7 linked regions of the Homo sapiens genome follow. The protein of the gene in region 5 interacts with the protein of the main gene of each other region in a pairwise test. Each region holds a gene or a part of one and is shown on either strand. Other genes may lie near its edges.

Region 1 (3,500 bases), on a different chromosome or scaffold from region 5:
CCCCATTCAGTAGCAGTGGACTTTAACAACACAAACTGTTAAAGGACCCAGGGCTCGAGTCCTCAGTAAGGTTGAAGGGTGTGGCACAGGTATGATGACTATGCTATGTGAAATGGAAACAAGGAAGTGGGCAAGAGCATATATTTTCTGCTCAGGCTATAAACAGGAAGTGACCCTTCCCACTAACAGGATTGCCAAGTATGTTCCAGGTTTGTATATATCATTAAAAGTAAGCCTGAAACCAAAGCCCAGTCACTTGCTGACTTTGCCACTGGGTTTCAGTCTGGAAACAAAGTCACAGATGTGACCATTTTCCAAGCCCCTAAAGCTCTGCTGCTGCTCCTGCAGGGAGCAAGCCTGCAAGGGATAGATCTTTGAGCCTCTGGCATAATTTTCCACCTTCCAGGAAGAACCTCTCTGCCATACCTTACCTGAACAAGGCATCTGTGGAGTGCACATATTCCCTTCCCCAGTAATTACATAAATTCCCATAGAGCTGAACCAGTCATTTAAGGTTCTAAGTGGAAATCCTCGGGCAGCTGGAAAGACAAATTTGGCAAAATAGGAACTCTTTTAATTAAGTCAGATATATAGCAGATATCAACTAAACAATTAACAGAGTATTTAATCACCACCTTACATGTGTTTCCAACAATGCTCTTGAGACACAAGATAAAAAAGAAACATGGGCTGGGTGAAGTGGCTCACACCTGTAATCCCAACATTTTAGGAGGCCAAGATGGGAGGATTGCTTGACCCCAGGAGTTCAAGACCAGCCTGGGCAACATGGCAAGACCCTATCTCTACAAAAAATTTTTTAAAAATTAGCCAGGCATGGTGGTGCATGCCTGTGGTCCTAGCTACTCAGGAAGCTGAGGCAGGAGGATTGCTTGAGCCTGGAAATTTGAGGCTGCAGTGAGCCTTATCTGTGCCACTGCACTGGAGCCTCCAGCCTGGGTGACAGAGTAAGACCTTGTCTCAAAAAAAAAAAAAAAAAAGAAAGAAAGAAAAGAAATATGACCCTTGTCCTGAATGGCACGTGTCTTAAGGGCAGAGATTGTATCTCATTTGCCTGTGCTTATTCCAGGCCTAGCATAGCACCTAATCATAACAGATATTCAGAAAAAACTTCTAAGTGAGGATTCTACCAAGTTGGTAAGATATATCCATTAAAGACCAATGTGAGGAAGTGTGGTACCGAAGAAAACACTTTTGTCTTGTCTCCCCTCTGCATCTCTCTTATAAGAACACTTGTGATGGCATTTAGAGGCCACCTAAATAATCTAGGGTAATCTTGTCATCTCAAGATCCTTAAATTAATTACGTCTACAAACACCCTTTTTACAAATAACGTAACAGTCACAGATTCTGAGGATTGGGATGGGGATATATCTGGGGATCCATTATCAGCCTACCACACTGAGTTTTGCCTATGGCATGTGACCAGATGTAATGTAGACAGTTTCCAGGCCTGGCCCATAAAAATTTCCCAGGGGAGATCTTTATTTCCTTCTCTGCTGGCTGTACAAAGAGGCCATGGAAGCCATGGGTTAAAGATCGCAAGGACCGGCCAGGCGTGCTGGCTCACGCCTGTGATCCCAGCACTTTGGGAGGCTGAGGCAGGTGGATCTCCTGAGGTCAGGAGTTCGAGACCAGCCTGACCAACATGGTGAAACCCCGTCTCTACTAAAAATACAAAAATTAGCTGGGCTTGGTGGTGGACACTTGTAATCCCAGCTACTTGGGAGGCTGAGGGAGGAGAATCACTTGAACCCGGGAGGTGGAGGTTGCAGTGAGCCAAGATTGCATGATTGCACTCCAGCCTGGGTGACAAAGCAAGACACTGTCTCAAAAAAAAAAAAAAAAAAAAAAAAAAAAATATATATATATATATATATATATATATATATATATATATACACACACACACACACATATATGAGATAAAAAAATTATTTGTAGTCACAGTTTGAAAGAGTTCTGTGGTACATCCATTAGATCAGTGCTATAAGTCTTGACAGTACCTCTACTCCCCTCTCATGTAAGATGGGGACTAAACCTGAGAAAAGCAAAGGCAAGTCCAGAGAGAAGAAAAACTAAAAAGCCACACCAAAGAAAGAATAACTAAGGGCTCCCTGACCCAAGGAAGAGACGCTCAGTAGATATCTGAGGTCAGTGTTTAAATGGACAAAAGACTATCAGGTATAATTAGTCACCTGGGTGTCTGGCTGTAAGCTCCCACTAGATTGCAAGCTCCTTCAGGATAGGAAGGGACTGAATAATCTTTGTGTTCCTACCCTGTAACATGGTACTTGACAATTGTAGGTAGGCCCAGGAAATGCCTGCTGAATATGTGTGCGAATACCAACTGCCTGGCCACAAAGGCCAGCAAATCTTGGCTGAGTAGAAGTCCTGCTTTAATTCCACAAGCCTTAAAACCCCAAAGTGGGCTGGGCATGGTGGCTCATACCTGTAACCCCAGCACTTCGGGAGGCTGAGGCAAGAGGATCATTTGAGTTCAGGAGTTCGAGACCAGCCTGGGCAACATGGTGAAACCCCGACTTACAAAAATACAAAAATCCCTGTCTCAAAAACAACAAAACAACAACAACAGCAACAACAACAACAAAAAACCCAAACAAACAAACAAAAAACCCCAAAGTGCTTAATATCTTTATCAGCATCACTTACCAGCAGAGGCAGCTTTCACCATCAACTGGGCAAATTCAATGGCATCTCCATTTCTGAAGACTAATTTAAAAGTAGCTTGTCCTTCCCAGCCACCTGGGGGAAGAAATGGCACACACTCACCAAGAAACTGGCATAGCTGACAACAGAAAGACTGCCACAAACACCAAGGGAAGCACTACCTGACAAAGTAGGGCAGCTTTTGTTTGAATTTCAACATGAGCCAAGTTTGAATCTTAAACCTTTTAGAAGATTTTGAGGGAAAAAAAAATACACACTTCTGAGGGAACACTTACCATATGGAGCTGCCTGAATAGTTCCCTTAATGAAGTTTGCAGCAAATACTGGTTGTTCAACAGTGAGGTTCGTCATCAGATCAAATGGCATCATAAAAGACAACATGGGATCACTGATGGAGCATGAAGTTATGAAAATCACCTACGCAAGGACAGAAACTTTGGAAAAGGAATGCAGAATTTGTCCATGGATTGAGACTTACAAGAGCAAGGTGCATTCTGGTCTAACTGAGAAACATCATCTTTTCTTCCACCACCCTTCAGTGTGGAAAATCCCAAAGCGCACGTTTAAAAACACTTCAAAAGTCAATGTTTAAGTTTTCTTCATTTCAAGGAAAACAAATGTAGAGTTAATCAGCAGATTAAAGTAGAAGTAGAAATTACCCGGTATGAAGTGAGAAACAATGTTCCTGTCTTTCTACCACTAAAGACATTTGAGCCTTCTGATCGCTGTGGGAAGGAGAGCTCCACATTCGGAGACCGCTTCAAGAGACTGTAGAAAATGAGGAACAGACG
Region 2 (2,765 bases), on a different chromosome or scaffold from region 5:
TGGAGTACAGTGGTGCGATCATGGCTCACTGCAGCCTTGATCTCACAGGGTGAAGCAATCCTCCTGCCTCAGCCTCCCGACTACAGGCGTGTGCCATCACACCTGGCTATTTTTGGTAGAGACGAGGTTTCACCATGTTGCCCAGTCTTGGAGAACACTTTAAAATGTTACTGCCCAGAACAAAGGGGAGGTAGAAGAGTCTAACCTGCTCATCTTTAGAGCCTTCTTCAGAAAGAAACCCACTCCTCTCTGGGTCTTCATCTGTTTTAAGATTTTGTTTTTTAAGGAGGTCTCGCTATGTTGCCCAGGATAGTCTCAAACTCCTGGGCTCAAGCATCCTCTTGCCTTGGCTTCCCAAGTAGCTAATTACAGGCACATCTGGCTATTTAACTTCAAATGACTCCTCCAATCAGTAGGCAGGATTTATAGTGACAAAGAGAAAAGCATCTAACCAGGGAGAACACTGAAACCATCTCAAAAAGAAGACACAGTACACAGTGTTTCAAAATGTGGATATTGTTTACTTGAAGCAACAGTCCAGGATTGTGAAGTACAACACATTTTAAGGATGAGACTTTCCTTTCATGGTCAAGCACCAGCATCATGCACACAGCATCAGGTTATTTAAAACAACACGCCTGTGGGACCCCGTTCCTGGAGGAAGACCCGCTTCAGTGTGATTGCCTCCCTTGCTTCACTGCTTTTAGTTCCAGGCAGTTTCATTGTACATCCAAGCCTTCCTCTGCGTGAGAGCAAAGGCTTTGCTCATCAGCCAGCCAGTCTTGTTACTATCTGGCTACTTTTTAAGGTTAAAAAATAAAAGGCAGTTTCTTTGCTTTGCAGGCGGCAAGGCAGGAGGCGCAGGCCTCTTCATTGTTCACATGTCACAGGAGGAGGCTCTGAGCAAAGGCCACTGGCAAGTTAGGGCAACACCAAGAAGGCTCTGCGGAGAGACTCCCTGTGGGTTGGGGCCTGGCAGGAACGGTGCCTGTGGACTGTTTATGGTCTGTCCAGTTGAGGCTTGGTAAACCCAAGTAAAGTGTTAAAAACCTCAGTACAAAAGATCCTCTAACACATCTGGAACCAAATTATTTCTTCTTAAAAACACAGTACTAAGTGTCACAAAGCTTTCCCTCCAATCTACTACTAGAAAACACTCATGCCATGGCCCACAGACCCAAGAGTCAAGGACAGAGAGAAACCTGTTCTTCAAAAGAAAAAAAAAAAAGACAGCAGTACATAAAGTGCTTCTTTTTAATGAAACAAATCCAAGAGATGTACAGTCAGGCTCAAGTTGTGCAGTTCACAAGCATGGAGGAAACAGACAGAACGACAGCGTTCAGGACAGTCAGAGCTAACCCAAGACGAGGCTGGACTTGCCGCCAGGGGGATTTCTTCTGGATGGCACTGGGGCCGGGGCCACCGGGCTGGGCACAGGCGCAGCAGGCACGGGCTTCTCTTCACTCTGCCCCAGGCTGCCTGGCAAGTCTGTGTCCACATTTTCTATGAAAACAGGGAATAGAAATAATACTCATAATGACAGCCATTTCCTGTTAAGATCAAGGATCTGTTTCTCTTTTTCTTTTTTTTTTGGTTTGATGGTTGGAAACATACCTAAAAGCATAAACAAAATAATCACCCACCATGCTCCCACTCCACAGAATTAACCATTGTTCATCTTTTCCCATATTTGTTGTTTATGTTCTTTTCTAAATTACACAAATATATAAGGACATGAAGTTTTTTTTTGTTTTGTTTTGTTTTTTGACGGAGTCTCGCTGTTGCCCAGGCTGGAGTGCAATGGTGCAGTCTTGGCTCACTGCAACCTCCACTTCCCAGGTTCAAGCAATTCTCCTGCCTCAGCCTCTCTAGTAGCTGGGATTACAGGCGCCTGCCGCCATGCCCGGCTAATTCTTGTATTTTTAGTACAGATGGGGTTTCACCATCCTGGCCAAGCTGGTCTTGAATTCATGACCTTGTGATCCACCTGCCTCGGCCTCCCAAAGTGCTGGGATTACAGGCGTGAGCCACCGCGCCTGGCCCAAGGACATGAAGATTTTTAAATAAGAACAGGGAACTCTAGCTCTACGGCCCCTTCCAGCTCCGGGTGGATCCTGCTCCCCCTATTCCCAGAGGTCCCACTGCAAGTCCTGTGCAGCCTTCTAGTCCACTTGTTTTATGTATATTTACATGTAGCCAGATAACATGTAACATGTTTTGGTTATATTTAACATAAATGGTATCAACTTCTTTTTTTCACTCTTGGAAATGTATCCATATTTACAAACAGGGTAGTAATTCGCCTTGCTTATTAACTGTATGTTTTCAAATCCCTCACCTCACTGTCAAGCTTCATTGCTTTATAGTAATTATCACATGATATAGGCTATTTATCCAATTCTCTGACAGCAAAAAAACTGGAACCCATCCAATTTTCCAAATGAATTGTCTCTCATTAGGGTTGTTTCTAAACCGGGAAAAAACTGATTCAAAGTGCAAAGTGAATGCAAAAATTCTATATTTTCTATGAAAGGAAACTTTTACTAAGAGCTTAATAGTATACATATTTTTAGTTTTTTTGTTTGTTTGTTTTTTGTGGAGGGGTGGGGTGGCAGGTGGAGGATATTGAGACAGGGTCTCACTCTGTGGCCCAGGCTGGAGTGCAGTACCTCAATCACAGCCCACTGTAGCCTCAAACTCCTGGGCTCAAGCAATCCTCCTATATCAGTCTCCCAAATAGCTGGGACTACAGGCGCGCACCACCA
Region 3 (3,500 bases), on a different chromosome or scaffold from region 5:
GTCATCCAGGCTGAAGTGCAGTGGCACAATCACAGCTCACTACAGCTTAGACCTCCAAGGTCCAAGTGATACTTCTGCCTCAAGTCTCCCAAGTGGTAAGGACTACAGACACGCACCACCACACCTAGTTAATGTTTTGTAAGAGACAGGGTTTTGCCACGTTGCCCAGGCTGGTCTCGAACTTATGGGCTCAAGCCATCTGTCCCCCTTGGCCTCCCAAAGTGCTGAGATTAAGCTCATCAGGCCTGAAAATTTTAACTGGACTTGAATTTTACCATTATCAACAAATATTGTCAGCTATTTTCCTTGATGTGACAGATCACTGTTCACTTTCAAGGGTGTGGAGGCCCACACCTGTAATCCCAACACTTTGGGAGGCCGAGGTGGGCCGATCACCTGAGGTCAGGAGTTCAAGACCAGCCTGGCCAACACGGTGAAACCCTGTCTCTACTAAAAATACAAAAAAAAAAAAATTAGCTGGGCATGGTGGTGGGGCCTGTAATCCCAGCTAATCGGGAGGCCGAGGCAGAAGAATCCCTTGAACCTAGAAGGTGGAGGTTGCAGTAAGCCGAGATCGTGCCACTGCTCTCCAGCCTGGGCAATAGAGCAAGCCAAATACTGAAGTCTGAATAACAAAAGCATGTCTTTCATTCTTTCAAGAAAAAGTGTTCCATGAAAAACGGACCTAGTTCAGCTCACAACTCAATTACACAAGTTTTTTTTTTTTTTTTTTTTTTTTTTGAGACAGATTTTGCTCTTGTTGCCCAGGCTGGAGTGCAATGGCGCGATCTCAGCTCACCAAAACATCTGCCTACTGGGTTCAAACAATTCTCCTGCCTCAGCCTCCTGAGTAGCTGGGATTACAGGGATGCACCTCCACGCCGGGCTAATTTTGTATTTTTAGTAGAGATGGGGTTTCTCCATGTTGGTCAGGCTGGTCTCGAACTCCCAATCTCAGGTGATCCACCGCCTCGGCCTCCCAAAGTGCTGGGATTACAGGCATGAGCCACCGCGCCCGGCCAATTATTGTTCTTTTCCACAAGTAATCAACACTTAACATGCCACAAAAGTACTTTATACAGGCCGGGCACGGTGGCTCACACCTGTAATCCCAGCACTTTGGGAGGCCGAGGCGGGCGGATCACGAGATCAGCAGATCGAGACCATTCTGGCTAACATGGTGAAACCCCGTCTCTACTAAAAAATACAAAAAAAAAAAAATTAGCCGGGCATGGTGGCTGGCGCCTGTAGTCCCAGCTACTCAGGAGGCTGAGGCGGGAGAATGGCGTGAACCCGGGAGACGGAGGTTGCAGTGAGCCGAGATTGTGCCACTGCACTCCAGCACTCCAGCCTGGGTGACAGAGCGAGACTGTCTCAAACAAAACAAAACAAAACAAAACCTTTGTACATACTTCCAATTTTGTTACATAGAATATTATGACAACTAAACTCTGATTTTTTTTTATCTTGCCCAAATTCCTATCTAAGGGGTTTGGGGAGTCATGCCCTACAAATCACAAATTCTCTTCAGAAGTATTTTATTTAACCCTATACATCGTGACTTACTTTCTAACCTGAGTCTGGCATAAAATTACAAGATACAACACAAGGAAGAAAATCAAAATATTTTACCCCAAAGCATGTTTCTTTGCCATATTTTGAAATGGCCAGGGCCGGGCGCGGTGGTTCATACCTGTAATCCCAGCACTTTGGGAGGCCAAGGCAGGCAAATCACCTGAGATCAGGAGTTCAAGACCAGCCTGGCCAACGTGGTGAAACCCCGTATCTACTAAAAATGCAAAAATTAGCTGGGCGTAGTGGCAGGCACCTGTAATCCCAGCTACTCGGGAGGGTGAGGTAGGAGAATTGCTTGAACCCAGGAGACAGAGGTTGCAGTGAGCCAAGATGGTGCCACTGCATTCCAGCCTGGGTGACAGAGCGAGACTCTGTCTCAAAAAAAAAAAGAAAAAAAAAGAAATGGCCCGGCAAAGCTGTTCTTTCTGGGGGAGAATTTGCATCCGTAAAGAATCTCTATTAACATAGCTAGATCTTTTTCTTCCAGACCCTCCCAATCCTAAAGATGTTAACTAACATCTGAATAGGAAACATTTGTCTTCTATTGTCTCTAAGGGCAGCCACTATAGGACTTCAAAAGAACTTTGTTCTCCACAATCTTTTATCTTAACCAGAACATTCCCTTTCCATCAATTCTAGGTCTTTTTTTTTTTTTTTTTTTTTCAAATGGAGTTTCCTCTGTCGTCCAGGCTGGAGTGCAATGGTCCAATTTTAGCTCACTGCAACCTCCGCCTCCCAGATTCAAGGGATTCTCCTGCTCTCAGCCTCCGGAGTAGCTGGGATTACAGTCACGCGCCACCACGCACGGCTAATTTTTGTATTTTTAGTAGAGACAGAGTTTCACCATGTTGGCCAGGCTGGTCTCAAACCCTTGACCTCAGGTGATCTGCGGGCCTCGGCCTCCCAAAATGCTGGAATTACAGACGTGAGCCACCGTGCCTGGCCTTTTTTTTTTTTTTTTTGAGATAGAGTTTCGCTCTTGTTTCCCAGGCTGGAGTACAATGGCACGATCTCCGCTCACTGCAACCTCTGCCTCCCAGGTTCAAGCGATTCTCCTGCCTCAGCCTCCCAAGTAACTGGGATTACAGGGATGCACCACCACGCATGGCTAATTTTTTGTATTTTTAGTAGAGACGGGGGTTTCTCCATGTTTGTCAGGCTGGTCTCGAACCCCCGACCTCAGGTGATTCACCCGCCTTGGCCTCCCAAAGTACTGGGATTACAGATATTAGCCACTGCACTTGGCCTTTAGTTTTTGTTTTAGTTTTTGGTTTTTTTTTCTTTAAAGAGATGGGTTCTCACTGTCTACCAAGGTGGAGTACAGTGGCACAATCATGGCTCACAGCAGCCTTGACCTCCTGGGCTCAAGAGATCCCTCCTGCCTCAGCCTCTAGGTAGCTGGGACTGTGGCCCAGGCTGGAGTGCAGTGGCATGATCTCGGCTCACCACAACCCCTGCCTCCCGGGTTCAAGCTATTCTCCTGCCTCAGCCTCCCGAGTAGCTACGACTACAGGCGTGCACCACCACACTGGGCTAATTTTTTGTATTTTTAGTAGAGAGGGGGTTTCACTATGTTGGCCAGGCTGGTCTTGAACTCCTGACCTCGTAATCCGCCTGCCTCAGCCTCCCAAAGTGCTGGGATTACAGGCGTGAGCCACCATGCCTGGCCCCAGCTAATTTTTTTTACTTTTTTTTTTCTTTTTCTATTAAAAAGATGGGGGTCTCACTAGGTTGCACAGGTTGCTCAAACTCCTAGCTTCAAGTGATCCTTCCACCTTGGCCTTGTTGTACCCAAGCGAGTTAGAAAAACGCCACACTTTGAGACAAATTAAGAGTCTTTTATTAGCCGGCGACCTAGAGACGGCTAATGCTCAAAATTCTCTCGGCCCCAAGGAAGGGGCTTGATTAACTTTTATACCTTGGTT
Region 4 (4,116 bases), on a different chromosome or scaffold from region 5:
TGGGCACTCTCCTCTACAGTGGTTTGCCTAATAACACCATTGTTGAGTCAGGACAGAAATGGCCCTGAGATCCACCTCTTCTGAACCCCAAGCCAGGCACACTCACCTTTAAAGAAGATGTAATTCACCAGGACCATCATTGTCTGCGAGTCAAGGTCCTTGATCAGATCTGTGATTTTCCCCCTAGTTCCATTCTTCACGTAGTCGTTGATGAGCTTCTTAGCTGCAGCTGAGTCCTGAAAGTCAGTGGCAAAGGCCTCGGAGCCATACAGCCTCTTGGCATCCTCCGTGAACCTGTCCAGCAGACTGAGTTGCTCTTTGACAAACATGGCATTTCCCATACTCAGCTGCAGCTCATCGCTGGACTGATTGAGGGTGCGCAGGAGGTGCTGGAAGCTCTGGTGAATTTCTGCCTCAGAAGTCTCCGTGAGGTTGAACTTGAGGCCTTTGAGAATCTCTGTCAGGGTGGTATTATGGGCCCCCAGAGACAGGAAGGCCAAGGCGGTGGAGATGCTCAGTGGGGAGAAGATGACATTCTTATCAGGGGCCTTCAGGACTAACTGCTTGTACAGGCTGAAAGCGAAGTCCACGTTGGCGGAGGCTAATCCGAGGTCCACGTGTGTCCCTCGGTCTTGGTTCTCCTGGGTCAGATTCTCCTCGTCAAGTGGGCTGTTAGGGTGGCAGAGGACAGCAGGGCAGAACCCAGCCGCCAAGAGCCCCAGAGCCAGGAGAGGTAACATTCTCTCCATTCTCAACTCTGAAAAGCAAAGCTCCTTTAAGTCTCAGAGGGCCAGATGGAGCCCCGACCACCTCCCACTGCCCTCCACCCAGCCTGCGTCCTGGTCCCTGTCCTGCTGCCTCTTGCTAGCTTTGGAGCCTCCCTCAGGTAGGTGCTCTCTGGGGCACCCGACACACATCACTCTGCTTCATTTCACCCTTTGAGGTAGGTACCATAATTGTTGCCATTTTCTTGCAGTGGAAAAGCCGGGCACAGAGCGGTGAGGGGGCTTGCCCAAGATCATACAGCAAACAGGTAAAGGAGCCCAGTGGGCAGCCAGGTTTGCCTGGCTCCTCGGTCTGTAAGCTGATGGGGGGTCCGAGGTTCAGTCCAATCAGAATGCCTGCTCCTCTCCTGCTTGGTGAGCAGATCTCATCCTAGGGGATTAGAAAGCAGGGGCTCCCTTCCTTCATTCTCCCAACTGCCACCAAAGTAGAACCCAGGGATGAAGGAGCCCTGGGCAGAGATAGAGGCCACAGTGACTCTCCCAGCCTCTAGATGTCACGTGGTGTGGCCTCCACAGGCCTCCACGATGTGATGCTGGGTGGCAGTGAGGGTCGACTGAGAGAGGGAAATGAAAGTCCCTGGTACAGTGTCTGGAGCCTCGATGGCCCTGATAATGGTTGGCAGCAAGACCAAAGAAAGGCAAATGTTCTTCTCTGCCCCTGCCAGGTTGCCACGTGGTGTCTGTGTCCACCATAAGCCTGGAAGGGCCTCTTAGTGGGGAGAAGGCAGAGAGGGCTTTGGAGTCTCCCAGACTTGGACTGGGATTTTATTTTGGCCACTTTTGATTGCTGTGTACTGGCAAGCAGGTGACTGTACATCTCTCAACCTGTTTCCGTCTCTGCACAACCTGTTAAGTGGCTCAGGTGAGATAAATGATGAAGGCACCTGGTTCATATTAGACGTACCGAGCAGTCACCACCTCCCATACTACCCCTTTCCTGAAACTACAAGCCAGAGAAGAGCCATGAGCTACTGCACAAGAGACCCTGGAAGGGCTGAGTTCCAAGCCGGTGACCGCAGCAAACAAGATTATTCACCTTCAGCCTCCGCCCACTCAGTCCTAGAATTCAGAAGAGAAAAGGGGCAGCTTGGGTGCTGGGGAGAAGAGTGGGGAAGAGAGGCGATTGGAAGGGAGGGGAGGGGAGAGGGGTAGAGAGAGGAGAAGAAAAGGGGAAGAGAGAGTGGAAGGAAGGGAAGGAAGGAAAGGAAGGGAAGGAGGGGAAGGAGGGGAAGGAGGGGAAGGAGGGGAGGCCAGTGGAAATGCCTTTGGCCAAGCCCAGGGACAGAGGCACCTTGTTTGCTTCAACTGTTCACTCTCAGGCTGATGCAATCATTTCTCTGGATAAATGTTAGACAATATTTTTCTCCAGAATTATTTCAGGGGCAAAGGCTTGTCTTTTCTGTTTGGGCAAGTTGGAGGGCTGGCTGTTTCCCAGCAGTTTGTCTTTTCTGTTGCTGGACAGAGACACAGCCCATCTGTCGACTTGGCCAGGGGTCCTTTTGGGGAAGTGGAGCTCCCGAGGCAGCCCCATGGAGACCCTGAAATCATGGTGAGGCCTGTGGCCTCTGCTCAGAGGGACCTGCTGCAATAATCACATCTGCCACATGTTCTGAGAGCTGCACCCTGCTCCAGGCAAGGGGACAGCACCTCTTCCCTGAGGGTCAGATGCACAGCTGACTCAAATCCGAATCTGTAAGTATCAAGGCAGAAATGACCATAGAGGCCCCAGGGCACCTCCACCCTTTGCAGGTGTGAAAACCCAGACACAGAGGATGCCTCTAAAAAAGGCACAGGGAATCAGTGGCAGCCAAGAACAGACCCCTGGCCCCTAACACCTGAGTACACCTCCTCCTGGCCTCTGCTTACCCCTCACACTCCACACACTCCAGGCTGCTGCCTAAAACTCTCCTGGAAAAACAGATTCCTCCGCTCCCAGGATGTAAAACATCATGGATTACCTGCCTCAGGGAGCTGGATGTAGCTGGTGGATTCCAAAGCCGTCTGTCTGGAGTAGTGGATTTTCATGAATGCTGAGGCTTATTTATTCCTGCAGAGAACTCCTCCCCCTGCTTGGGAAATGCCAGGACAACCAAGTGTTCTGTTCTCGGACTGGAAATGACCAGATGATAATTTCTGGTAATACGGGCTTGTTAGACCTACTCAAATAACCTGGTTATGGGACTAGCTCTAATCTCTTCCTCCAAAGGTCAAAAAAGCACACAGAAAAAATCCTTTGTTGTATTAGTTTTTATCTGCTTATTAAATACTCATTGAAGAACATGGAAAAACTCAGAGAATGTAAAGAAGGACTTTGGAAAATATCCCCCAGCACTTTACTACCCAGAGAAGACCCCAGCTAACATTTTGGTATATTTCTTTTTTATTTCTTTTTATTTTTTATTTTTATTTTGAGACAGAGTCTTGCTTTGTTGCCCAGGCTGGAGTGCAGTGGCGTGATCTCAGCTCACTGCAACCTCTGACTCCCGGGTTCAAGCAACTTTCTGCCTCAGCCTCCCGAGTAGCTGGGACTACAGGCACACACCACCACGCCCAGCTAATTTTTGTATTTTTCGTAGAGACAGGGTTTCACCTTGTTGGTCGGACTGGTCTTGAACTCCTGACCTCGTGATCTGCCCACCTCAGCCTCCCAAAGTGCTGGGATTACAGGCATGAGCCACCGCACCCAGCCACATTTTGGTGTATTTCTAAAGCACTTTTCTTTGGTGTCTCTGTGTGTGTGTGTGTGTGTGGCTGCATGTGTGTCTGTGTGTCTGTGTGATGTGAATGTCCATATACAAACCTAGATATATTTTTAAAATACAGGACTCTATTTTTCTGTGGATCAGTTTGCATTTTTGGCACCCCTTCACCAACCCCAGAGAGTAGGGCACCTAGAGAGGGGTGTGGAGGGGAGCTTTCGGGGAGCACAGGTGTTGTGAGGAACCCCTTGTCCTCAGGCTCTGTTTCTCTGTGGGGGCCTCCTCAGCCTTGGCCTCTGTCCTGCTGAGCCTCTGCGATTGGTTCACCCCAACAAGTGGTTGTCCCTCCTCCCCGGCCTTCAGGTATCCTTGGGCCTCTCTCTTAGCTAGTCTGGGGTCTTTCTTTGGCTCATGAAAAAGGAAAAAAAAAATCCTGGGCGGGACTAGTGGCTCATGCTGGTAATCCCAGCATCTTGGGAGGCTGACGTGGGCAGACCACCTGAGGTCAGGAGTCCATGACCAGCTTGGCCAACATGGCGAAACCCCATCTTTACTAAAAATACAAAAAAAAAAAAAACAAACAAACTAGCAGGGCATCATGGCGCATGCCTGTAACCCAGCTACTTGGGAGG
Region 5 (3,500 bases):
TCTGGCAGTCCAACTTCCTAGCTGTGAGACTTTGGGCAAGTTACCCTTGTTTAGAATTATAGTGCATATTTCTCCAATAGGTTCTTTGAAAGCATATAAACCCTTCAGAGCTAAAAGAAATTTGCCAAACAAGTTAGATACCAATTTACAAGTCTCCTTTTTAGTAAACACAGCACCTAAAGGGAACCTTCCCAAGTTTTAGCTTTATGTTTACTTTCATCATATTAAATTCTGGACTCTTGTCCTCAAACTCATGAATTTAGAATGATGTTGAGCAAAAGGTCTTTTTAAAATACAGGACACAGAGGCATACGGTACCTATTTATCTTTGTTTTCTATTCAGAGTGATGGTTTTCCTACAAGTTTAAGTCAGATTAACTGTTTCTCCTTTATAATTCCTAATAATAGGTACACTCATTGCATTCAGTTACTTTATACCCTTGCTTTTGGTAAGTTTCTTAAAGGAGAAAAGCAATATGATTTTAAAGTAAGAATGTTGAACACATGAAAAAGAGTATTAAAAGTTAATAAAAATATGTTTTTAAGCTATAAAATGACTTAATTTGTTAAGGCCAAAGAGTGGGTAAGGAAACAAGATTCAACACTACTCAACTAATGGAAAGTGCTTATTGTTGAGCAGTGTTTGGCACACCTCCAGAATTCTTTCACAATGCACAGCAGGATACCAACAAGTACTTATAAAGTATACTTTTGGGTCTGAGGGGATCTCTGATCACTTTAATAAGAAATTATGATCAGAATACTTTTGCACTACAGAAAGAAGAGCAGCCTTCCTGCATCAAGGGTCATTTAAATCAGCTCCAGTGCTACGAAATAATGCTTGGTTATAGACAAAATCTACCCAAAGATATAGGGGAAGAAAGCTGTTCTTTTGGGACATATTTGAGTATCTATAACCCTATCAGATGTGACAATCTGATATTTGGGACATATTTGAATATCTATAACCCTATCAGATATGATAATCAATGACTAACAAACTAATCTGGTATTTGGGACATATTTGAATATCTATAACCCTATCAGATGTGATAATCAATGACTAACAAACTAACAAGCCTGTCCTTTCTTATCTTCTAGCTTGACTTCTGTTTTTCGTTTTTTTTTTGTTTTTTTTTAGGGTTCAGAATTTTTCAGTCCTTTACAGTATCTCTATTATAACTAGAATAATTTGGCAGAACCTCGAAATCAAAGTTATCAGTTAAATGAAATGTGTTAAGCCTATAGAAAAATCTTAGTGCTTGTTTTCTCTCAGAGAAAACCTAACTTTGTGAAAACCTAACTCTCCTCACCAAGGAACTCCTAATTCTCCATATTACCCCCTTCGAGACTACGGAGGTATATCTGAAGGAGTACAGGTAAGAAACTAGCATTATTATATGGGATTATACATTAGTAAATTACTGTATAATTATCCGTACTGCTTAGCACTGATCTTGAAGTTTTCAATCCAAAAGAACTTCTTGCAAAACATCATTTAAAATTCATGGAAGAAAAAGGAGACTAAATGAGTCTAGTTTACCACCATATCCCTAGTGCCCACCAATGAATATCTTCAACAAAAATTCACTACGGGTTAACCATGTACCAGACCCTATGCTAGGTAGGCAATGGGAAGTAACAGTACATAAGATCGTCTCTGCTCTTAGAGACTGCTACCATAGGAGAGACTTGACTAAAACTAGGGGGAAACAAAAAAGCGTGGAAAATAGGCTAGTAACCTAAGATTTTGCAAATGATAAGATTTATTCCTATTTCCCCAGATGGTCACATGGCTGGCCTCCTGCCAACACCCAGGTCTCTGCCCAAATGTCACCCGATAACGGAAGGCCCTCTGACCACATAATATAAAGAAGGATCATCCACCATCACCCATTCCTATCATCTACTCATTCTCCTTTCTCATTACCTGTGTAATTTTCTTCATAGTGTTTTTGTTTTGTTTTGTTTTGAGACAGAGTTTTGCTCTTGTCCCCCAGGCTGGAGGACAGTGGCATGATCTCGGCTCACTGCAACTTCCACCTCCTGGATTCAAGCAATTCTCCTGCCTCAGCCTCCCGAGTAGCTGGGACTACAGGTGCTGGCCACCATGCCCTTGTATTTTTAGTAGAGATGGGGTTTCACCATGTTGGCTAGGCTGGTCTCGAACTCCTGACCTCAGGTGATTTGCCCACCTTGACCTCCCAAAGTGCTGGGATTACAGGCGTGAGCCACCATGCCCGGCCTCTTCATAGTGTTTATCACTATCTGACATTATATTATTTATCTGTTGAGCTTTCTTCTCCCATTAAAATGTAAGCTCCATGAGAGCAGGAACCTCATCTGTCTTATCCATTCCTCTGTCCCTTTCACCTAATATAGTGGCTGGGACACAATAGGCATTCAGTAAACGTGTGGAAGGGAGAGGCTCCTACCAGTAACATACACTAAGAATATTTCTGTGAGGTTTTTCCCACCCAGAAAAGCCTCAAACCTAAAAAAAAAAAATTCTGAACCCTAAAAAAACAAACAAACAAACCAAAAAACAGAAGTCAAGCTAGTTATAAGAATCAATAACCACAGAAGAATCCTGAAATCTATGATATCACAAAAGGACCATAATTAGGCAATTATATAAAGAAAGGATTTTCACCCACTATCCACTTTATAACACCTCTAAATCATATAGCTTCTCTTCGGAAAGTTGTCTGGTCAGTTACAATTCATCCAAATAAACACCAGCATAATTTAATCTCTATGAAAAAGACCAATATATAGCCTCTAAGAATCCTTTTCTGTACTTATTCTAAAGCTGCTGTTTTTAAAAGGTTATGGGTGAAGCTGGGATAGAGTTATAAAGTTACAAAGTCAAACTGGCACAGCTAGAGCACTAATGCTAATAAGACTATAAATTTAGGACAGGTCCTCCTTCATTGGCACTCCGTACAGTACCCAGGCACAGTTCTAGCTACATAGTAGGTACTTTACAAATATTTATTGATTTAGCTACATATTAGGTACTTTACAAATATTTATTAAGTTTTCAAAAACCTATTATTGGTATCCATTTTGATATAGAAAAGTAACTTGTGCAAAACCCACCAAGCAACTGCTAAATTCTTGACAGAAAAAGCTATATGGGAGGACTTTGGGCTCCACACTGAACCAAGAGCCATCAGAAAATGCAGCTGTATAGAAAAATGGTTTCTATTTCATCCTGGAACCTCTTAAAAATCAGATCTAGGTACATTATTAATATTTACTTTTCCAAATCCTGCTCTGAACTTGGAGGCGGAGGGAATCAATCTTGGAAATTTTCCAAGAGGAAGAATCTAGTTAGTCCTGATCAATAAATGGCAAACTAGCAGATGAGCTGATGGGTTCTTTTATGTGCTTCTTTTTGCATGTTTATTTTCTGCAGTGAGTAAGCATTGCTTTTGTAAAAACAAAACAAAAAAGCTTTCATTAAAAAACAAAAAAAAATTTAATGACATGAAAGC
Region 6 (3,500 bases), on a different chromosome or scaffold from region 5:
TGAGGAGGAGGCACCAGCAGGGGCTGAGCCCCCACAGCGGGATCCCCAACGGGGCTCCTTCAAGTTCCATGGCGGTGGCCAGAGCCAAGGATGGGGAGTTCCAGTCCTGCTTCTGACTTCCCATAGCTGTCACCCTGAATAAGCTGTTTTTCTTGATCTCCATTTCTTCAATGACCAATCACCCCCACAGCCTCATCAAGGATGCCGTCTCAAGTGTGGCGCTAAGGCATCTGTACCACCTCACAAGGCCATCTCAGTGTGGCACTAAGGTGTCTGTACCACCTCACGAGGCTATCTCAGTGTGGCACTAAGGTATCTGTACCACCTCACGAGGCCATCTCAGTGTGGCACTAAGGTGTCTGTACCACCTCACGAGGCCATCTCAGTGTGGCGCTGAGGCATCTGTACCACCTCACGGCATCTGTACCACCTCATGAGGGCATCTCAGTTTGGCACTGAGGCGTCTCTACCACCTCATAAGCACTTGCTCATCTCCTCTTTAAAACAAAGGAGCAGGCTCAGGAGCAGGCTCAGGATCAGTACCAGCCCTCAGTGGAATGTAGTTAGGATTTAATTACTGTTTTTACGGTCACCTTCTATTCAAGGCGGGTGATGTCAGCTTTCCATTTATGGTAGGGCTATAAATGATCCCTTTTAAATACATTCCAAGGTTCTACAGTTCTGTGATTCACTCTCCTCCTCCCAGTCTGGTTCCTCTCTCCTGCGTGTCCTGGACCTCCCCGCACCCCCCACCAGGCAGTGTCCCGCCCGTGCCTCCAAGCTGTGGTGTGAGTGCAGGATGCCCAGGGCTCACCTCTGCCCAGGACCCTTTGCGTTGTGGCTTTGTCTTCGGTGGGCGGAAGTGAGGCCCTGCCACACAGCTGACCACAGCGTGCATGCCACCTGGGCAGGCTGGCCGCAGCTTGCCCCGGGCTGGAGCCACCTGCACCTGGCAGTTGGCCATGTGGGGCTCTGTCCCCAGGCAGGTGACCTGGTGGATCCAGAAGGAGTTCTTATTCGTCAGGCTCTTCAGCCTAGAGGACAAGGGAGACTGAGGGTGGAGGAAGGGCTGAGGGAAGAGCTTCAGGACTAAGGGAGGCCAAGGTAGAAAGGAGGGAAGGGGAGGGTAGGGGATGGGATAGAGGCCCTTCATGCCACACCCCTTTGCCTCCTCCCTCTAGGGTGCTGCTCCTCACCTAGACTTAGGGTCCCTCATCTTCAGATCCCAGACTTTCCTGTTATGGGAGAAAACAGATAGGAGGTGGAAGGGGTGTGGAAGTCCCACCCCCTGCCACCTGGTTCCTCATAGTTGTCCTTAAGTTTGCACAGGACTTTACATTTTGTAAACTTATTCACTAATCTGATTTCAATGCTGAGCTTCACAGCAGCCCTGACGGGGTGGCCACCTCACAAATAACCATTTTACAAGGAAGGCAAGCAAGGTCCCTCGGCCAGTCCTAGAGTGGGGGCAGGTGGATCAGGCTTGCCCTCTCCGAAGTCCAGAGGAAGGGGAGCATTTAGGGAGGGCCCAAGAGAAGGGGCCCTCTGGGGACAGGTGGGAGGTGAAGGCCTTGCTGGTGGGGGCGGCCCGCCCAGAGACACCCAGGCTACCATCAGGCCTGCCCTCCTCATGGGTGGCAGGCAAGTCAGCGAGACCCAGGTGTGCAATTACCAGGCAGGGGGAGTCAGGCTGCATCCCAGGATCCCCAAGGATGGAGCCAGAGGCTGACCAGCACCCCTGTTTCCTCAGAACGGGGTTCCTCTAAGTCACTGCAACAAGGGCCTTCTAACCCTTTAGGGAAGCAGGATCAAACTGATTGGGGTGGCAGATGACTCAGACGTACTACGGGAGACTTCTCACTTGATGGGAAACACACAAGTCCTCCCTGACACGGATCTGGCAGAACCATGACTGTGGCTGTCGTTTACTGGTTGATGCAATCAGTTGTGACAGTTCCGCCTTGTTTCTGACAGAATATTTTTATGTCTCCTCTCTCCAGGTGCCCCACCCCACGCCTCACTTACACACAACCCAGTCACAGCCTGGCTTGATCAGAGCTGAGGAAATTCAGGAGGGAAGCGTTGGGATATTCGCAGTGGAATTGAGGATGGAGGCTCAGAGGCCCTCCCCAAAGCCCTAACGCCAGTCACTGGCTGAGCTGAGGCCAGAACAGTTTGTCTAAACTCTACACGTGGGTGTCACTGCAAGTATCTGCAGGAAAGTCTAGTGTTTTAACCAAGGACACGCGGTTTTATGTTCAACTGTTTTCACCGGGGGCGGGGGGTGGGGGGGCGTTCTGTACCTAGTTAATTCTGTTTACATAATTCGAGAGTGCAGTGTTTGTTTTCTGACTGTTTCTAGGTATTTCCCAGGATCCTGAAGGTCCTCCTTATTCACTTTCCTGTTTATTATTCTGAGGCACCCGTGAAGCAAGAAATCTGGGCACATTCCTCAGTAGGGCCTGTTTTCTCTCCCCCAATCCCAACACCTGCTGGATGTCCTGCCACAGACAACACCACTGCCAGTCAGTACTCACTGAACTCTGCGAGGTCCCACATGCCACACACATCACACACTCGCCTGTGTGCATACTTACTTGCCCCTCACATGAGTCCACACTCAGACTCATGCACACACCCTACATCACATGCACGCACATGAACACACACTCAGTCCCTGCCCCACAACCCTGCCTCCTGTGGGGCCTACGCCAGCCGCCCTCCTACCTGTAGTAGTGGCTGTCGACAGGCACCTCGCTGGGGAAGCCCAGCATCCCGCACACCACCCTGCTGTTGTTCATGGTCCAGCCCTGGTCACACACCTGCCGCCAGTGGCCCTCATACTTCACCTCCACGGCTCCCTCGGTCACTGGGCTATGCTGCTTGGCACTGGCAAGGATGGGCTTGAGCCGCACCTCCTCCAGCCGCCGGCCCTGCGGGGTGCACAGTCACCTGTGGGCCTCGGGGCTCCTGCTCCTCCAGTGGAGCCTGCTGCAGATCTTCATGCAGAAAGGCTGGGGCTTGGAGCTTTTCGAGACCATCCCACCCAGCCCGGTCATTGAACAGGCCAGGAAACTGAGGCCCAGAGAAGGGGAGGCATTATCAAAGGCCACAGAGTAAGTGCAAGGCAGAACCTCAGCTTGTCTAAGCCCTTTCCCTCAGTTCCTCGAATTTGTCAAATTGGAGAGAACTAGGCAGATCTGGCCCCCGCTGGGATCAGGATGGGAGCCCTTGGAGTTTGGGAGGCTTTTGCTGGGCATGGAAGGGCCTTCTCTGTACCACCCTGAGAGAGCTGAGATGGGCATAGACCAGCTGCTTGAGACCACAGCAGGATCCTATGGCCCACAAGAACCCCCAACCCTAGCCCTGGGATGACTTAGACCAGTACAGAGTCCCCATCACAACACGCTGCATTCAGTGGCCATGGCCAGCTGTCCTGAGGCTGGAGGCTGCCTGGCAGCAGAGCCCTGCCCTGCCCGCTCCTGTTGTTTGGCTTGGGC
Region 7 (2,968 bases), on a different chromosome or scaffold from region 5:
GATATTGAAAATGCCACTTTGGGTACCTGAAGGATGTGTTTGGAGGACATCATCACAGTCTAAAAAAAAAATTAAGCTGGTTGGAAGAAGTTATTCTCATTTAACTTTACAAAGATAGGCACGGCTCAGATTAAATAAGGCAAATACTGTTTCTTTCCCTTCCTTTCTTTCTTCCTCCTTTCCTTCCCTCCATAGGGAAAGGATGCACTTACAGTGGGATAGAACTTATGCAAATAAGCGGTTATTTATACCTACAAATTGCAAAGGGGATTTTCCTCAAATGTATTTGGAATTTTACTTGCACAAACTAATAGCAAGTAACCAGTACAGGTAGCTAAGCATCACTTAATACTAACACAACTTGTATTTAGCCTGACCTAAATGTCAACTGAGACACATACTAAAAATGTGATTAATCAGTTGGGTGACAATTCTAATAGCACACACTTTGAATAGTGAAAGAATTTGACTAAATAAGCTCAAATAGAGTTTCAGAGGAATTCATTCATCCATTTAACATGTATTTATTGAGTCATGGCTCTGTACTGTTAGGCATTTGGGAATACAGAGATGAGACAGACAAAGGCCCTGCCCCCAAGGAACTTACAGTCTAGCACAAAAACAGACCAAAAAAGTGTAGTTTCAATGACGTGTAACAGAGAGTTAAGAAGGAAATGCAAGGGGCCATGGGAACACTGTGCAGAAATATTTAACTTAGTCTAGGGGGACAGGGAAGGCTTCCCCAAAGGAGAAGTGTGGATACCTCTGACAGGGCGAGATTTAGCATGGCCTCTCTTGGTGCTATGTGTTCCTTCATGATCGGCTTCACTTCCGGCCTCATCTGCCATTTTATAGCTCTTGCTTTCAAATGTGGAGTCTCCTCTGTTGTAACTCGTGCTACTAGTAAATTGTTTGCTGTAACTTGAAGATTTACCACGGGAAGGGAATTCAGCTATCCCAGGGTGATGAGAACTGGATTCCTTTGTATTTGTGAAGATGCCAGATTCTGAGCCCCTAGACTCAGTCTCACTGACAAACTCTCCTAACATAGGTGAGAAGAAACCTGGGAATGTTTTTCCAGTTGAGGCAGTGTCGAAGAAGGCAGCTTCATCAGGGTGCCTATGGCGGAACCCATCCAGAGTACCTATGCCAGACAATGTGCCTAAATCCATTGCCTCGGGACAGTCAGAACCATCTTCGGAGGTCACCACTTCTTTGGTAACTTCTTTGTGACCATCAGGACCAATAACAGTCTTAGTAACGGTTTTAGAGCATGAACGACGCGTGGTGGTTGTGCTACCAGAGGTGACCTTCTCTTTACCAGTCCTGAGCTCTTTATCTCCTTTAGAAGTGACCAGTTTTTCTGTGTGGTACTCTCTCCTTGTCCCTGGACTTACATTTCCTGACACCTCTTCAAATGTGCCCCAGTCTGGGTTGTTAGGCCTCGCGTTCCCAGAGCCTGGGCTATCTGGCCTAAAACTTCCAGATTCAGAGTGCCATTGTCCAGTACTACCAGATACAGAGCTCTCAGAGGTCCAGTGCCCAGCACTTCCGCGTTCAGAGCTGCCAGGATTCCAGGTTCCGGTACTACCAGGTCTAGGGCTCCCAGGGTTTTGGTTTCCAGTACTTCCAGTTCCAGAGCTCCCAGAGTTCCAGCTTCCAGTACTTCCAGGTCCAGAGCTCCCAGGTTTCCAGGTTGCAGTCCCTCCAGTCCCAGAGCTCCCAGGGTTTCGGTTTCCAGTACTTCCAGGTCCAGAGCTCCCAGAGTTCCAGCTTCCAGCACTGCTAGGGTTCCTGGGGCTTTCCGTCTCTGATCCGGTTCCATAAGAGGTGGAGCCTCCTCGAGTAATCTCATTTCCACCAGGTCTCTCTAACTCCATTCTCATCTGCGGCATGTCTGTTAATGCCTTCCACTCTGGGGGTACCTTCTGAAGCTGGCTCTTAAAATTTCCGGGAACCAAGTCTGGAACTGGTTTCATTTTTATCAGTGGTAAGTGTTGCCTATCTCTAGAGGGAAGTAAGTCTTTGGCAATGACCTGTTCAAGTTGCTTCTGCTGATCTTCATAGTCCTTCAGATCTACTTCACGAGCTAAAGCCCTACTGCATGACCCTCGACAAGATCGGATCTTAATATCAATGTCCACCTAGAGAGAGGGGAGAAAAATAAAGAGAAAATGTAGATACAAATACATAAACTACGTCTATTGAGTTCCTGGTAGTTAATTTTCCTTCTGGAAACTGGTTTCATTTTTTTTGACTCGGAGACCTACCACTTAATATTCTCTGTTTTCTGCCTATCGAGCACCCTCAGTGGAAGAGATGTTGGGTATTGCAGGGCTAGCCAGGATAAGCAATGGATGCTGTTTAATTCATCTTAGCCTCAGAATGGATCAAGAGTAAGGTGCTATTCCCTCTCAAAGGAAACGCTAATTAAATGATCCTTGGTGAAACTCAGGCTGAGGGCTCAGAGGTGTGGTGATGTAATGGGCTTTGGAATTAGACAGGGACTGAACATTTGCTTTTGAAATTTACTATCTATGTACCGTTGGAAAATTTACTTAATATCTCTGAATTTTTTTTCTTCAACTGTGGAGTGAGGAAAATAATACCTACTTTTAGGTAGATGATGGATATAACACTTTTCTCTGCATATAGTAGACACTCAGTGCATAACTATCGCCTTCCTTTTCCCTCTACTCAGAAACAAGGACATCTGGGACCACAGCCACATACTTACCTCCAGTCGTTTCATATCAACCAACTGAGCTCTAACATTTTTCTGCAGAAGCTGGATATGCTGTACTTTTTCTATGACTTTGCGCTTCAGGACTTCAATTCTGCTTCTCAGATCCTCTGACACTCGGTTGTAGGTATTATCACGGTCTGAAATCGAAAATATGGTTATTGAAGTAGCTGCTGAGTGATTTGTCTGTAATTGCCAGCAAAAAAGAAAGGAAGAAAGGAAGGA

What was found.
Region 1: the proteins of LAMP2 (region 5) and WBP2NL interact in binary tests that used the Homo sapiens proteins (3 or more experiments, as listed by UniProt).
Region 2: the proteins of LAMP2 (region 5) and JPT1 interact in binary tests that used the Homo sapiens proteins (3 or more experiments, as listed by UniProt).
Region 3: the proteins of LAMP2 (region 5) and ZBTB8OS interact in binary tests that used the Homo sapiens proteins (3 or more experiments, as listed by UniProt).
Region 4: the proteins of LAMP2 (region 5) and SERPINA3 interact in binary tests that used the Homo sapiens proteins (3 or more experiments, as listed by UniProt).
Region 6: the proteins of LAMP2 (region 5) and LOXL4 interact in binary tests that used the Homo sapiens proteins (3 or more experiments, as listed by UniProt).
Region 7: the proteins of LAMP2 (region 5) and FGA interact in binary tests that used the Homo sapiens proteins (3 or more experiments, as listed by UniProt).

What each region holds. Positions count from the first base shown.
Region 1 is NC_000022.11:42,019,288-42,022,787, reverse strand, and holds part of WBP2NL (postacrosomal sheath WW domain-binding protein), read right to left. Parts: intron 3,478-3,500; coding exon 3,369-3,477; intron 3,144-3,368; exon of another isoform or gene 3,127-3,143; coding exon 2,985-3,126; intron 2,785-2,984; coding exon 2,692-2,784; intron 540-2,691; coding exon 432-539; intron 1-431. UniProt on the Homo sapiens protein: May play a role in meiotic resumption and pronuclear formation, mediated by a WW domain-signaling pathway during fertilization.
Region 2 is NC_000017.11:75,134,748-75,137,512, forward strand, and holds the end of JPT1 (jupiter microtubule associated homolog 1), read right to left. Parts: exon of another isoform or gene 1,504-2,765; coding exon 1,355-1,503; coding exon of another isoform or gene 1,255-1,354; 3' UTR 501-1,254; downstream 1-500. UniProt on the Homo sapiens protein: Modulates negatively AKT-mediated GSK3B signaling.
Region 3 is NC_000001.11:32,640,551-32,644,050, forward strand, and holds part of ZBTB8OS (protein archease), read right to left. Parts: intron 1-3,500. UniProt on the Homo sapiens protein: Component of the tRNA-splicing ligase complex required to facilitate the enzymatic turnover of catalytic subunit RTCB. Together with DDX1, acts by facilitating the guanylylation of RTCB, a key intermediate step in tRNA ligation.
Region 4 is NC_000014.9:94,611,075-94,615,190, reverse strand, and holds the start of SERPINA3 (alpha-1-antichymotrypsin precursor), read right to left. Parts: upstream 2,801-4,116; 5' UTR 2,744-2,800; exon of another isoform or gene 2,652-2,743; intron 1,845-2,651; exon of another isoform or gene 1,822-1,844; intron 1,156-1,821; exon of another isoform or gene 952-1,155; intron 758-951; 5' UTR 750-757; coding exon 107-749; intron 1-106. UniProt on the Homo sapiens protein: Although its physiological function is unclear, it can inhibit neutrophil cathepsin G and mast cell chymase, both of which can convert angiotensin-1 to the active angiotensin-2.
Region 5 is NC_000023.11:120,462,797-120,466,296, forward strand, and holds part of LAMP2 (lysosome-associated membrane glycoprotein 2 isoform A precursor), read right to left. Parts: intron 1-3,500. UniProt on the Homo sapiens protein: Lysosomal membrane glycoprotein which plays an important role in lysosome biogenesis, lysosomal pH regulation and autophagy.
Region 6 is NC_000010.11:98,258,195-98,261,694, forward strand, and holds part of LOXL4 (lysyl oxidase homolog 4 precursor), read right to left. Parts: intron 2,934-3,500; coding exon 2,728-2,933; intron 1,236-2,727; coding exon 1,197-1,235; intron 1,035-1,196; coding exon 815-1,034; intron 1-814. UniProt on the Homo sapiens protein: Catalyzes the oxidative deamination of lysine and hydroxylysine residues in collagen and elastin, resulting in the formation of covalent cross-linkages, and the stabilization of collagen and elastin fibers.
Region 7 is NC_000004.12:154,584,775-154,587,742, forward strand, and holds the end of FGA (fibrinogen alpha chain isoform alpha precursor), read right to left. Parts: intron 2,884-2,968; coding exon 2,738-2,883; intron 2,145-2,737; coding exon 720-2,144; 3' UTR 501-719; downstream 1-500. UniProt on the Homo sapiens protein: Cleaved by the protease thrombin to yield monomers which, together with fibrinogen beta (FGB) and fibrinogen gamma (FGG), polymerize to form an insoluble fibrin matrix. Fibrin has a major function in hemostasis as one of the primary components of blood clots.